Homo sapiens: one gene and its partners. The protein of the gene in region 1 purifies or fractionates together with the protein of each later gene. This does not show direct contact. Each region holds a gene or a part of one and is shown on either strand. Other genes may lie near its edges.

Region 1 (4,307 bases):
AAATTCTCTGGACATATGATGTATGACTGGGCCAATAGGTGAGTTTTCCAATACTGAATGCTAAATTAGTGTCTTGAGGAGTCATGTCTGTGTTCTTAACAGTATATGAACAAGGACAATTTTTGTTGGCCCACAACCTCCTATTTAGTGTCACCCAAGCAAGCCACTTAAACTCAATCACATTTCCTTAAGCTCTAGGCTCTGCCTTCTTTTTAGGCTCTGCATTTGAAAATGACTGTATCTTAGTTGGTGCTTCTGAAGAAATGATGACCACAGCACTACTTCTTTTTTTTTAAATTATTTTTGTCTTCCTTTTATTATACCAAGTATGTGAACCTAGTTACTTATTTCTTAAATAAGAACTTTAATTTTTTTTTTTTTTTTGAGATGGAGTCTTTCTCTGTCACCCAGGCTGGAGTGCAGTGGCATGATCTTGGCTCACTGCAGCCTCCACCTCCAGGGTTTGAGATTCTTGAAGACCCTTCTCTCTTTCTCTCTCTCTTTTTAAGAAAATAAATACAGCATAACGCCCTGTGGAGAAGAAAAAAATTTTTTTTAAAGAGACGGGAGTCTCACCATGTTGCCCAGGCTGGTCTCGAACTCCTAAGTGCAAGTGATCCTCCCACCTTAGCCTCCCAAAAGGCTAGGATAACAGGCGTGAGGCACTGCACCCAGCCTTTTTTTTTTTTTTTTTTTTTTTTGAGATGGAGTCTCGCTTTGCCACCCAGGCTGGAGTGCAGTGGTGCAATCCCGGCTCACTGCAACCTCCACCTCCTGGGTCCAAGCGATTCTCGTGCCTCAGCCACCCGAGTAGCTGGGACTGCGGGCGCCCGCCACCACGCCCGGCTAATTTTTTGTATTTTTAGTAGAGACGGGGTGTCACCATTTTAGCCAGGTTGGTCTCGAACTCCTGACCTCACGTGATCCGCCCGCCCCGGTCTCCCAAAGTGCTGGGATTACAGGCGTGAACCACCGCGTCTGGTCGCTTCTTCAATGTTAGTTTAAATCACAGGGACTATGCCTCCCAGGGTGTTTGAATTCAAAGCACGGTCAGTGCCAGGTACTGGCGATCAAGGAAGGGAAGATATCTGTGGATGCGGGGCAGGGTATGGTTGGGGGACGCAGGCGTTGGAGATCTCCAGGGGTCGCCGCAATGACTGGGATCATATCGGGCAGTCTCCTCCACTCACAATGATGGCACACGCACGCGCGAACGAATTGGCTGCAGCATGGTTTGAATTGGATTGAAACGCGAGGGATCACAGACTGAGGCAGCACACTCCGTGTCTCGAAGGCAGAGATCACCTTCTGCTTCCCGGCGCGCGTAGGCGCAGGCGCCCACCGTCATGGGCGGGGCTCAGGCGGAGGCGTCGCAGCGCGTGGTCGCGGATTGGCCGGCCGCGAGGCCGTCGGTTGGCTGTGTCCCTCTCCACGGCGCACAGAGCATGCGCGGGGCGGGAGTGAGCGAAATTCAAGCTCCAAACTCTAAGCTCCAAGCTCCAAGCTCCAAGCTCCAAGCTCCAAACTCCCGCCGGGGTAACTGGAACCCAATCCGAGGGTCATGGAGGCATCCCGAAGGTTTCCGGAAGCCGAGGCCTTGAGCCCAGAGCAGGCTGCTCATTACCTAAGGTATGTCTGGACCGCTGGGCGGGTCTAGCTAACCGACCTGGCCCAGGGTGGAGGTGGGGTGGCCCCCGGATCCTCCTGGGGACCCGAACTGTTGAGGCGGAGCCTTTTGAGACGCGCGCTCGCGCTCTTCTCGCAGTAGGGTGTGGGAGTCAGCTCTGGATGTTTGACCAGATTTCTAAAACCTGAGGAGACCCCGATGCCTCTTCTTTTGGGCAAATGACCCTCCAGTATGGTCTCCTTAAAAGCCAGAGGAGCCTTAATTAATCAAGCCCTTCTTGATTCTTTTCAGCTTATCAAGCCCTAAGTCTAGGGGATACAGAGATGAGTAAAACAAGGTCCCCGCCCCCAAATTGTTTGTAATCTAGTAGTGGAAACGGATCTGTAAAGCAATAATTACTAGGTTTGATAAGTGCTGTAAGAGGTATAATGTACGTGCAGGGCACAGTGTTGGCATAAAAGAGGGAATGGCCAACTACAAGGGTGGTCAGCTAAGGGATGGCGTGGCAAGAGGAGACATTTGAGCTAGGCGTTGAAAAATGAGTAAACATTCACCAGTTGGCTAAGGGTGGGGGGCGTGGTAATGTTGGGATGAGAATTTAAATTTTTTCTTAAATTGTGGTAAAGTACACATAACATAAATTTTATCTTTTTGTGCAGAAACTGGGTTTTATGAAAAATAAAGTTTATCATCCTAACCATTTTTAAATGTACAGTTCAGTAGTGTTGACTACATTCATATTGTTGTGCAGCCGTCCGTCATCTCCAGAACTTTTCTCATGTGGCAAAACTGAAACTACTCCCATTAAACAAACTCCCCATTTCCCCCTCCCTTCAGCCCCTAGCAACCATTATTCTGTCTCTGTGAATTTTACTGCTTTAATTTTTTTTGAGACAGGGTCTTGCTGTGTCGCCCAGACTGGAATTCAGTGGCCTGATCATAGTTCACTGCAGCCTCGAACTCCTGGGCTCAAGCAGTCCTCCTGCCCCAGCCTCCCTAGTAGCTGGGACTTAAGGTGGGTGCCACCATGTCCAGCCAATTTATTATTTTACTATTGTTGTTTTATATATATTTTTAGAGACAGGGTCTGGCTCTGTCACCCAGGCTGGAGTGCAGTGGCGCGATCTCTAACTCAGCTCACTGCAACTTCCATCCCCCGGGGCTCATGCGATCCTCCCACCTGTTTCCGGAGTAGCTGGGACCACAGGCGCACACCACCACACCCAGCTATTTTTTTTTTTTCTTTTTTTGATACAGTCTCGCTCTGTCACCCAGGCTGGAGTGCAGTGGCGCGGTCTGGGCTCACAGCAAGCTCCGCCTTCCGGGTTCACGCCATTCTCCTGCCTCAGCCTCCCGAGTAGCTGGGACTACAGGCGCCCGCTAACACACCCGGCTAATTTTTTGTATTTTTGGTAGAGACGGGGTTTCACCGTGTTAGCCGGGATGGTCTCAATCTCCTGACCTCGTGATCCGCCCGCCTCGGCCTCCCAAAGTATTTTTTTTGTGTTTTTAGTAGAGACAGGGTCTCGCCATGTTGCCCAGGCTGGTCTCAAACTCCTGAGTTCAAGCAATCCTCCTGCCTCGGCCTCCCAAAGTGTTGAGATTACAGACGTGGGCCACCATGCCAGGCCTTTCATTTAGATTTTTCCAATTGTTTGCCATTATACTTTTGTTGTAATAGGCAGCCTTTGTGTGAATTTTTGTGCACTTCGTAACTGAGTGTACACTTTGGAATTCCGATTGCTGGGTCTTAGGGAATGTGTATTTAAAATTGCCATTCAAGAAAACCATGCCAGATTTTAATAAAGTCAATAGTGTGAGTAAGCATTTATTTATATTCTCTCAGGCTGGTGTGTGATGAGCTATATGAGTCAATTCAAAAGTTAAGATACATAGTTTTACTTTTGAAGCTAAGACTTGTAGTATTTTCTTCTACAGATACACTTACATGAGTGAGCAAAGATGTGTGTGCGTGTGTATACAGTAAGTCCTCACTTAACATTGTCCATAGGTTCTTGGAAACTGACTTTAAGTGAAATGACGTAGCAAAACCAATTTTTTTCTCATCAGTGTTGCAGCAAAATGATATTGAATGAACCAGTGTCATTCAAGGGCCTGCTGTGTGTCATTTTGCTTAAAGTTGCAGTTGCCAAGAACCTACTGACCACGTTAACTGAGGACTTACTGTACATATAAACATATACCAGAGGTGTGTGCCATGAAGCCCGGCTAATTTTTAAAAGATTTTTGTAGGCTGGGTGCAGTGGCTCATGCCTGTAATCCCAGCACTTTGGGAGGGCGAGGCAGGTGCATCACGAGGTCAGGAGTTCAAGACCAGTCTGGACAACATGGTGAAGCCCCGTCTCTACTAAAAATACAAAAATTAGTCAGATATGGTGGCGGGCACCTGTAATCCCAGCTACTTGGGAGGCTGAGGCAGAATTGCTTCAACCCAGGAGGCGGAGGTTGCAGCGAGCTGAGATGGCGCCACTGCACTCCAGCCTGGGCAACAGAGCAAGACTCCGTCTCAGAAAAAAAAGAAAAAAAAGATTTTTGTAGAGATGAAGTCTCACTGTGTTGCCCAGGCTGGTCTTGAACTCCTAGACTCAAGTGATCCTCCCAACTCAGGCTGCCAAAGCACTGGGATTACAGGTGTGAGCCACCATGCCCAGCAGAATCA
Region 2 (3,500 bases), on another chromosome or scaffold:
GTTGATGTTGTCTGTGTGACGGAAATGTAAGCCAGTTGCCTGAAAGGGAAGGAAAAAGAAAATCTATTTCCACAGTTCTCAGCACTCCCTATGGGTAAAGCCCAGACTACAGCTTAAAGATTCAGGAGAGATGGGCAGAGGGGAACCAGAGGACCACATCCTGTGGATTTTCCATCCCTACCAGGACAGAGAAACATAGATTAATAACACTCCCTTTTATCCAGATTTGGACAATAAGTTATATGGTCACTCTACCCTCACAGCTTTGAGGAGAAAGCATAGTTTGAGGGGACGAAGGTAGAAGGTGGGGTCCAATCCTCCCACCTGGTACCGCAGCTGCTCCACATCGTAGATCTTCTTCAAGGGAACCACGGAGGGTGCAAAACAGTGGCCTAGCTTGGCCAGCAGCACTCCATTCCGAAGGCTCTCCTCCAGCTCCACCGGGGAAGGAAGCTCCTCCTTCAGGCAGGCCTCCATCCAGCTATGAACATGAGAACACCTTCTCACGCACTCTGGCAGACCACAGTGATTTATTCTAACAACAGGAACTTCCCTCTGTCCCTCCTTTTAAGTGGCCCCTGACCCTCCTCTGCTTCCTGTTCCTGCTCTACCTCCAACTCCCTTCTCTGCCCATTGCCTGGCTGTTCCCACCTTCTCCTAGGTTGCCCCAAATATCTGGACTGGCCAACCCTCAGCCCCACCCACCCCAGCAAATCTTCCTTGACAGATCCTGAACCTGCCCATCTTCAGTGAGGCTTAACTGTTACATAGCTTCTCACTCAGTCTAGTTACATGCTTTTTTTTTTTTTTTTTTTTTTGAAATGGCGTCTCGCTCTTGTTGCCCAGGCTAGAGTGCAATGGTGCGATCTTGGCTCACTGCAACCTCCGCCTCCCAGGTTCAAGTGATTCTCCTGCCTTCAGCCTCCCGAGTAGTTGGGATTACAGGCACACCCCACCACGCCCAGCTAATTTTGTATTTTTAGTAGAGATAGGGTTTCTCCATGTTGGTCAGGCTGGTCTCAAACTCCCGACCTCAGGTGATCCGCCCGCCTTGGCCTCCCAAAGTGCTGGGATTACAGGCATGAGCCACCGCGCCCGGCCCTAGTTACATCTTTGACTGCTAAACAAAATAGAACGTGCTCACTTCTTTCATTCTGGGTTGTTCTCTGAGAACCTGGGTGCAGAAAGGTCATGTCTGCCTGAATGATCTACATGGCTCATAACCCAGCTTTGATGATGATGAGAGTAGTGGGGCTGGTGGAAGGGGAGCAGCACAAAGGGACAGAACGACCACAGCTCTTGGAGTCCGAAGGCCCCCTTTCCAACCATCTTCCCTACTTCACCTCTGTGAGCCTCAGTTGCACAATTTGCAAAATGAGGATAATGCCACCTGTATTTCCTTCAGTGGGCAGCTGCCAGGATCAAATGAGCTAATGAATGTGAAAACACTTTGAATATAAAGTATTATTATTACTGATGGTTGTATGAGGGAGAGATTAAAGTCTACTCAGATGGAATCTCCAAACTTCCCTACATATTGGGGTCTAATTGGAAAGTATCTGTTTCCAAAAAGAGAGCCAGTTACACATTGTTCCATGTCTTCCCTGCCTTAGACACCTGATTTTTCCTGATTGCCCCATCCTCCTGACTCCTTTAAGAACATTAAAAGAATCCTGTTGATTAAAAGCAAAGAATTAAGTACGTATCCTGCTTTTCCTGTACAGATTGACTTTTAGAGTAACCGAATAGTCCTAAGATGATGAGGGAATGTTCTTTAGGATTTCAGCTAGTAAATATGGAAGAAATGACAGAACTAGAAAATAGTCATTTTACACCCTTGATAAAATAATAAATTCTGATGTAGACCAACAATGAATGAAGGCATTAGATGAAAGTTAATGGGAAATTTTATGATGTGTAAATCAGGTTGGTTTCACCTAAACTCCCAGATTGAACTTAGCATCACTAAAAGTGGAACAAGCAGACATTGTATTCTTTCTATAAGATGTGATATGGAACATGTATCTTACATATGTTAAATATCACATATTTTAGATATATGTATTGCAGTATATAAGGGGTAAAAGGATCTGAGTGGGGGAAAAAAAACCACCAACACTAATGAAGTCTTCTTGTCAAAAATGGCTTTTTGTTTTTGTTTTTTTTTGAGACAGAGTCTCACTCTTTCACCCAGGCTGGAGTGCAATGGCATGATCTTGGCTCACTGCAACATCTGCCTCCTGGGTTCAAGCGATTCTCCTGCCTCAGCCTCCTGAGTAGCTGGGATTACAGGCATGCACCACTGCGACCAGCTAATTTTTGTATTTTTTTTGTAGAGACAGGATTTCACCATGTCAGCCAGGCTGGTCTCAAACTCCTGGCCCCAGGTGATCTGCCCGCCTTGGCCTCCCAAAGTGCTGGGATTACAGGCGTGAGCCACAGCGCCCATCCAGGTTTTTCTGTTTGTTTTTGGAGACACAGTCTCACTTTGTCATCCAGGATGGAGTGCAGTGGTGCCATCTTGGCTCACTGTGGCCTCCTCGACCTCCCAGGTTCAAGCAATCCTCCTTCCTCAGCCCCCCAAGTAGCTGGGACTATGGGCACACGCCACCATGCCTGGCTAATATTTGTATTTTTTGTAAAGATGGGGTTTCGCCATGTTGCTTGTCAAAAATGTTGAACCCAAATCTAATTAAGCCAACATTCATTTATAGGAAATACAGGGTATACAGGAATAAGCTGAATGACACAAGAAAGCAAATAGACACCCATCTCTAAAAAACAGAAGGAAAGAAAGAAAAGAAATAGAGACAAAATGTAGGATGTACTTCAGGAAAATGACCCAGTTTTCTTCAGCAAGTCAATAAGATAATGAACTGAAAAAAGGAGATGGGCTGCTCTGGATTAAAGAAGACATACAAGCAGATGTAATTAGTGAGCTTTTTGGATCCTTATTTGAATAAGATAACTGTAAAAACAGATTTTTTTTTTAAGACAAGCAGGAAAATTTGAAAATGGCTTGGGTATTGATCTTCCAAGGATTTAAAATAATTTAGTTGGATATTATAATGGCATTGTGGCTATATAAGCGAACGTCCACATATTTTGGAGATACATATTGCGGTATATAGTGGGTAAAAGGATGTGACTGGGATTTGCTTCAAAAAAAAAAAATTAAAAAGCTATTTCAACTCGCCCTTTCCCACAGGATGGACTCTCGATCTGTTGCATTTGCTTTAGCGGCAGATGCCTAGGGTGGGGTGGTAGAAAGGGAGAGCAGAAAGAGTCCATCTTCCTGGACTCCGCTCACCGCTTGGCCTCCTCCAGCCGGCACAGGTACTGATAGGCAACATTCTGCCGCCTCTGCTCATCCATCTCCTCAGCTGTGAGGCGTTCATCTGAGGAGTTAAACGGGATAAGGTCAATGAAGAGAGCATTAGAGGTGCCTTAGCACTGAAGGGTCTTTTTTTTTTTTTTTTTTTTTTTTGAGACGCCCAGGC
Region 3 (3,588 bases), on another chromosome or scaffold:
TCCCAGCTACTCAGGAGGCTGAGGCAGGAGAATCTCTTGAACCTGGGAGGCGGAGGTTGCAGTGAGCTGAAATCGTGCCACTACACTCCAGCCTGGGTGACAGAGTAAGACTCTGTCTCAAACAAAACAAAACAAACAAACAAAAAACCCAACAAAAAAATTAGCTGGGTATGGCAACACATGCCTGTAGTCCCAGCTACTTGGGAAGCTGAGGTGGAAGGATCCCTTGAAACCCAGGGTTCATGGCTGTGACCTAGCCTGGGTGACAGAGTAAGATGCTATCTCTCCAAAACAAATTTTTTTAGGGGCCGGGCATGGTGGCTAACACCTGTAATCCTAACACTTTGGGAGGCCTAGGTGGGCGGATCATGAGGTCAGGAGTTTGAGACCAGCCAACCTGGCCAACATGGTGAAACCCTGTCTCTACTAAAAATAACAAAAATTAGCTGGGTGTGGTGGTGCGTGCCTGTAAGCCTAGCTACTCGGGAGGCTGAGACAGGAGAATCGCTTGAACCTGGGTGGCGGAAGTTGCAGTGAGCAGAGATTGTGCCACTCCACTCCAGCCTGCAGCAACAAGAGCAAAACTCCATCTCAAACAAACAACAAAAAAAACAAAAAAACTGACTGTGGTGATAGCTGCACAACTTTGTGAATATGCTAAAAAATGTACATTATACATTTGAAGGAGATAAACTGTATGGTATATAAATAAAGCTGTTAATAATTATATATATATATATATAAATTTTTTTTTTTTTTTTTTTTAGATGGAGTCTCTCTCTGTCACCAAGGCTGAAGTGCAGTGGCACAATCTTGGCTCACTGCAACCTCCACCTCCCGGGTTCAAGCAATTCTCCTGCCTCAGCCTCCTAAGTAGCTGGGATTACAGGCGTCAGCCATAACACCTAGCAATTTTTTGTATTTTTAGTAGAGATGGAGTTTCACCATGTTGTCCAGGCTGGTCTTGAACTCCTGACCCCCTACCTTGGTCTCCCAAAGTGCTGGGATTATAGGTGTGAGACACAATGCCCAGCCTGTTAATAATCTTTTAAAAATATTATTATTATTTTTTTGTAAGTGTACCTCTATGTGGTTCCTTTACTTAGAAATCCTGGAAGACTCCCTGCTGACCATGTACCACCATCTAAGCCCTTCAACTGGGCAAGCCAAGGCCCTGCAAAGTCAGGCTTGGATCATCTTTCCAGGCTCACCTTCTATGGCCACCCCCCTCCAATCCAGCTACAGCAGGCTTCTGCTTTCCTGCTCCTGTGCCCTTCCTCAGGCCTACCCTGCACTGGGCTGCCCTTCGCTGATCCAGAAGTCTTACTATGAGGTTTTGGTCCAGCTCAAATGCCAGTCCACCCATCACATTTTCTTCCCTGCCTACTCCCTGCAGAACTATTACATTGTATTCAATGTGTTGGTTTGGTTCTTCTGTTAGATTGAGAACTTAAAAAATGAGGTCTTATTCCTCCTTGTGTCCCTGGTGCTTAGTCCAAGCTCTCACTCTTGTGGGCCTCACACTTTGTACCTCAGTCTCTGCCTTCCGGGCTCAAGTGATCCTCCCACCTCAGCCTCCCTACCTATAGGCATGCACCTAATTTTTTGTAGAAATGTTTTTTTTGAGATGGAGTCTCACTCTGTCACCCAGGCTGGAGTGCAGTGCTGCGATCCTGGCTCACTGCATCCTCCACCTCCCGGGTTCATGCAATTCTCCTGCCTCAGCCTCCCAAGTAGCTGGGATTACAGGCATGTGCCACCACGCCTAGCTAATTTTTGTATTTTTTTAGTAGTGATGGGGTTTTGCCATGTTGGCCAGGCTGGTCTCGAACTCCTGACCTTAGGTGATCCACCCGCCTTGGCCTCCCAAAGTACTAAGATTACAGGCATGAGTCACCGTGCCCAGCCAGATCTGTTTTGTTGTTGTTGTTGTTGTTTGTTTGTTTGTTTTAAGACAGAGTTTTGCTGTTGTTGCCCAGGCTGGAGTACAATGGCACAATCTCAGCTACAGGTGCCCACCGCCATGCCTGGCTAATTTTTGTATTTTTAGTAGAGACAGAGTTTCACCATGTTGGTCAGGTTGGTGGTCTTAAACTCCCTACCTCAGGTGATCCACCCAGCTCAGCCTCCTGAAGTGTTGGGATTACAGGCGTGAGCCACTGCGCCCAGCAAGATGGGGTTTTACCGTGTTGCCCAAGCTGGTCTTGAATTCCTGGGCTCAAGTGATTCACCCATCTTGGCCTCCCAAAATGCTGGGATTACAGGTGTGAGCCACCACACCCAGCCTTCATACATTTTTATCAAATAAATCATGACGGGTGAACCTCTACTAATTTTACCTAAACCTGCAGGGTTTCTGGATGTCCTAGTGATGGTCAAGGACTTCACGTTGAAGCACTGCTTCCCAAGTCATAGGCCTAAGAAACTCCCTTTGTGGATGACGCAGCTGCTTATGTAACACATGCCCAGGGAGCTCTGCTTCCCCTCCACTGTGCTGCAGGTATTCCTGGACTAGGTTTGCCAGAGAAAGCCCTTGAGAGCCTTGACAAAAACGAATGGAGGGGACAGCAGATTAGTTACAAGGCCCTACCTGCAAAGCTTGAGCCATGGGACTTATCAGCAGGGTCCTGGCACATACATGAGGCCAGCGTGAGCAGCCTGAGTGAGCAGTGTGGGTTCAGACCTGCAGAGACAGCTGCCACCCTCACCCAATGCTCCACATGGGAAGGAGGCTCAGGGCTCTATCTGACACTTCAAAATGAAGATAGATTTTATGATAACTGTCCCAAGTTTTAATTGTTGGTTCCTTACATGCTGTTCTTATTCGAAAGAACAACAAATCCTCATGTGGCCAATGGGTGCTCCCAGTTGGGCCCTCAAAGCCATGGGAAAAGTCTCTGTTACTATGTGGACAGCACAGTGCATGGTTTAAGAGCACTGACTGTGGAGTTATTCAGACCAGGTTTTAATAATACACACTTTGTGAACTTAGGTAAGTTCTTAACCTCTCTGAGCCTTATTTCAACTATAAAATGGGATAAAGATATAGCAGCTGCATTAGAGAATGGTTTGAAGACTAGAGGAAACCTGTACCTGGTACACTGTAAGCCTTAGCTCAAGAGATGCGAGTTACCCAGAGGAGCCACTGACCAATGCCATGCTTCTCCATGAGGGCAATGAGGTCGGCCTCGGTGAGCAGCTTGGGTGGGCTGGTCTCCCCGTCCACCATCTCCACGGTGCTGGGCTGAAAGTGGGATCCTTGCTCATAGACAGGGAGGATCTACAGGGAGCGGCAGGTGCAACAGTCAGATGATTCCATCAGCACACTCAGGCAAAAAATAACCTCATTTCAAGGAACATGATCCTGCTCCACTAGAGAACTCAGGGCTCACAACACAACTGTCCTCCCTCTCACTGGGGACCACTCTTTATTACCTTGTCACTCCAGTGATCATATGGATACACATCCAGATAGTTTCGGGCCAGAATCATGAGGCCATGGGCCACAAAGCGTTCCTGAGCGATGTCGATCTCCACTGTGGTCTCCTGCCCCTGAGCATCCTGGGAGCAGCAAGCCAGGAAATGGCG
Region 4 (3,588 bases), on another chromosome or scaffold:
GACAGTGATCCCTTTGATGCATCTGGGCAAAGTAAACGGAAAACCTGATGGAAAGGATTTATCATTCTAGATGCCATTAAGAACATTAACGGGCTGGGTACCATGCACTTTGGGAGGGTGAGGAGGGAAAATCAGTGGAGCCCAGGAGTGTGAGACTAGCCTGGGCAACATAAATGAGATCCTATCTCTACAAAAAAATTAAAAAATTAGTGGGGTGTAGTGGCTCACACCTGTAGTCCCAGCTGCTCAGGACGCTGAGGTGGGAGGATTGCTTGAGCCTGGGAGGTTGAGGCTATGTTGCAGTAAGCTGTAATGGCACCACTGCACTCCAACTTGGGTGACAGAGTGAGACTCTGTCTCAAAAACAAACAAACAAAAATTCATGATTCACGGGAAGAGGTCAAAATATCAGTATTATCAGGAATTTAAAAGAAGTTGATTCCAACCCTCATGAATGGCTGAGGGATTCAAGACTTCAATGAAGGAAGTAACTGCAGATGTGGAAATAGCAGGAGAACTAGAATTAGAAGTGGAACCTGACGATGTGACTGAATTGTTGCAATCTCAAAAAACAGATAAGGAATTGCTTCTTACGGATGAGCAAAACAGTGGCTTCTTGAGATGGAATCTACTCCTGGTGAAGATGCTGTGAACACTGATGAAACGACAACAAAGGATTTAGAATAAATATTACATAAGCTTACATAAAAGCAGCGGCAGGGTTTGAGGATTGACTCCAGTTCTGAAAGATGTTCTATTGTGGCCAAAATGCTACCAAATAGCATCGCATGCTACAAAGAAATCTTTCATGAAAGGAAGAGTCAACTGATACAAAGTTCATCATTGTCTCACTTTAAGAAATTAGCACAGCCACCCCAATGTGGGCAGCAGGCCACCCAGGTGCCGAGGCAAGAGACCGAGGGCATGAGCTGTTCCGGTATAATAAAATATATAAAACAACAAGAGTTATCCTAGACCTAGATCATAAACATGATTATATATGAATACCATTCATCATTAGTTTGTAGCAATTATTCTTTATTCCAATATTATAATAATCCTTGCCCTACAATCATAACCTAGGAAAAGCCAGGCCATACAGAGATAGGAGCTGAAGGGACATGCTCAGAAGTGACCAGAAGACAATAGTGTGAGCCCTCTGTCATGCCCGGACAGGGCCACTAGAGGGCTCCTTGGTCTAGCGGTAATGCCAGCGTCTGGGAAGATGTCCGTTGCCAAGCGGACCGTGGTCTAGTGGTAGCGTCAGTGCCAAGGAAAAACACCCACTACTTAGCAGACTGGGAAAGGGAGTCTCCCTTTCCCCGGGGGAGTTTAGAGAAGCCTCTACTCCTCCACCTCTTGTGGAGGGCGTGACATCAGTCAGGCCCGCCTGCAGTTATCCGGAGGCCCAACCATCTCCCTGTGATGCTGTGCTTCAGTGGTCATGTTCCTAGCCTGCTTTCATGTTCCATCCTGTACACCTGGCTCTGCCTTTTAGATAGCAGTAGCAAAATTAGTGAAAGTACTAAAAGTCTCTGATATGCAGAAATAATGGCCTAAGCTGTCTTTCTCTCTCTCTCTCCCCACCTCGGCTGCCAAACAGGGAAGGGCCCCCTGTCCAGTGGACACGTGACCCATGTGACTTTACCTATCATGGGAGATGGCTCACACTCCTTACCCTGCCCCCCTTGTCTTGTATCCAATAAATATCAGCGCAGCCTGGCATTCGGGGCCGCTACCAGTCTCCACGTCTTGGTGGTAGTGGTCCCCCGGGCCCAGCTGTCTTTTATCTCTTTGTCTTGTGTCTTTATTTCTACAATCTCTCATCTCCGCACACAGGGAGAAAAACCCACCGACCCTGTGGGGCTGGACCCTACATCCCAACCTTCAGCAACCACCACCCTGATCAGTCAGCAGCCATCAACACCGAGGCAAGACCCTCCACCAGCAAAAAGATGACTTGCTGAAGACTCAAATGATTAGCATTTTTTAGCAATAAAGTATTTTCTAATTAAGGCATGTACTTTTTTTAGGCATGATGCTACTGCACACTTAATAGACTTCAGTATAGTGTAAACATAGCTTTTATATGCGCTGGGAAACCAACAACTTTGTGTGACTTGCTGTATTAACAATATTTGCTTTATTGTGGTGGTCTAGAACCAAATCCTCAGTTTCTCTGAGGTATGCCTGTAGTTCGTTACATTACTCTCTAACTTTTTTGAATGGCTGAAAGTCTCTGAGAGAGCCTGAGTAGATGCCTTAATATTTCCAGAAAACCAAGTTGCAAGTTCATCGGCTGAGGGCAAAGACATGGGAAAACTGGACAATTGAGGAAAAGCACTCTGAGATCCACTGAGGGTGGGGTGCAAACTGGGAGCGGGGCCCAGAGCAGACCTGGGGAAGGCAAGTTGCTATGAAAATTAAACAGGATATGTAAAGCTCTAGCTTCCTCTGAGCTGGTACGGGGGAAGACGGAGGCCAAGGCCAGGGCAACACTGAAGCATTCATTGTGGCAGGGAGTGTAGAGGTAGGAGGGTAGAGCGTGGGGCAGGGGATGGCAGGGAGCAAACCGGAGGAAGGAGAAGGCTAGGAAGGGCTGACAGCATCTGCAAAGGCAAAAGGGAACTAGAGGGTAGTTTTACATCCAGGAAGGAGAGAGAGAACTATTATACCATTCCTCGTTGCCCTCACCATGCCAAGCCGGGGGCTTCCCCACCAGTTACTGTGCGTATTAGGATATCACGTTTGCTTTGCTAAGGTTAAGTTATCTGAAGAATGTGGAAGACATCTTTTGGGGTCTCTGCCTCTCTTGCACTCTTCCTGCCCGGCCTACTGGTTTACAGGGAGGTGGGGTATGGTTAGTAAGCACGGTCCCACTTCTCTGGCCACAGCTAATGAGAGCAGAGGGGGAGACCTGACCTGAGCTGGGGCATGGTCCCTTCCTGAAGAATCTGAATCGGGACAAAGAGAGTCTAGCCTCAGACTGAGACAATCTCCTAACAGAAAATTAAACATTTGGAAGCCGTGCGAGGCCACCTTCCATCATGTGGGTGGCAGGGGAAGCTGGTCTGCATGGAGAGAAAGAAGCAGCGACACAGAGAGAGAAGCAACAATGGCACTGGAGAGAGAATACCCTGGCTCCTCATGGCTCCCAATTCTTGATTCTAGGCCCTATGAGGCTTTAGGCACCAACAGAGTATTACTTTCTTTTAAAATTTACTTTGGCTTGATATGGGTTTCTTCTTGCAACCAGAATTAATCCTCCCTAATACCAGGGGCAACCTGGGACAGTATCACAAAGACAAAATGATTTCTCTTTATTACTTTAAGCCTTCACCATCTGCTCTGCTAAAACAGTTCTCACACTCATTCATCTGCTTGCTTGCTTTCAAAAACATGTTGCCATTTTTTATGATCTCTTACCTCCTCTCTCCCTGTTCTCTCTGCCCTTGTGGGTTTATCACTTTTTATTCTTCTGCTACCACTTAATTAAAGTTTAAGGAGGAAGTGAAGATAAACACATCAATCTATAGCTTTTAATCAGTATTTTTTATTTTTATTTTTTGAGACAGAGTCTCACTCTGT

What was found.
Region 2: the proteins of ERCC6L (region 1) and IQGAP3 purify together in Homo sapiens (co-immunoprecipitation; one large-scale study listed by IntAct). This does not show direct contact.
Region 3: the proteins of ERCC6L (region 1) and TOP3A purify together in Homo sapiens (tandem affinity purification; one large-scale study listed by IntAct). This does not show direct contact.
Region 4: the proteins of ERCC6L (region 1) and PPT1 purify together in Homo sapiens (co-immunoprecipitation; one large-scale study listed by IntAct). This does not show direct contact.

The regions. Positions count from the first base shown.
Region 1 is NC_000023.11:72,236,166-72,240,472, reverse strand, and holds the start of ERCC6L (DNA excision repair protein ERCC-6-like), read left to right. Parts: upstream 1-1,445; 5' UTR 1,446-1,561; coding exon 1,562-1,629; intron 1,630-2,524; exon of another isoform or gene 2,525-2,642; intron 2,643-4,307. UniProt on the Homo sapiens protein: DNA helicase that acts as a tension sensor that associates with catenated DNA which is stretched under tension until it is resolved during anaphase. Functions as ATP-dependent DNA translocase. Can promote Holliday junction branch migration (in vitro).
Region 2 is NC_000001.11:156,566,066-156,569,565, forward strand, and holds part of IQGAP3 (ras GTPase-activating-like protein IQGAP3), read right to left. Parts: intron 3,399-3,500; coding exon 3,311-3,398; intron 482-3,310; coding exon 325-481; intron 43-324; exon of another isoform or gene 40-42; coding exon 1-39.
Region 3 is NC_000017.11:18,287,407-18,290,994, forward strand, and holds part of TOP3A (DNA topoisomerase 3-alpha), read right to left. Parts: coding exon 3,436-3,588; intron 3,281-3,435; coding exon 3,151-3,280; coding exon of another isoform or gene 3,116-3,150; exon of another isoform or gene 3,094-3,115; intron 1-3,093. UniProt on the Homo sapiens protein: Releases the supercoiling and torsional tension of DNA introduced during the DNA replication and transcription by transiently cleaving and rejoining one strand of the DNA duplex.
Region 4 is NC_000001.11:40,083,693-40,087,280, forward strand, and holds part of PPT1 (palmitoyl-protein thioesterase 1 isoform 1 precursor), read right to left. Parts: intron 1-3,588. UniProt on the Homo sapiens protein: Has thioesterase activity against fatty acid thioesters with 14 -18 carbons, including palmitoyl-CoA, S-palmitoyl-N-acetylcysteamine, and palmitoylated proteins. In contrast to PPT2, PPT1 can hydrolyze palmitoylated proteins and palmitoylcysteine.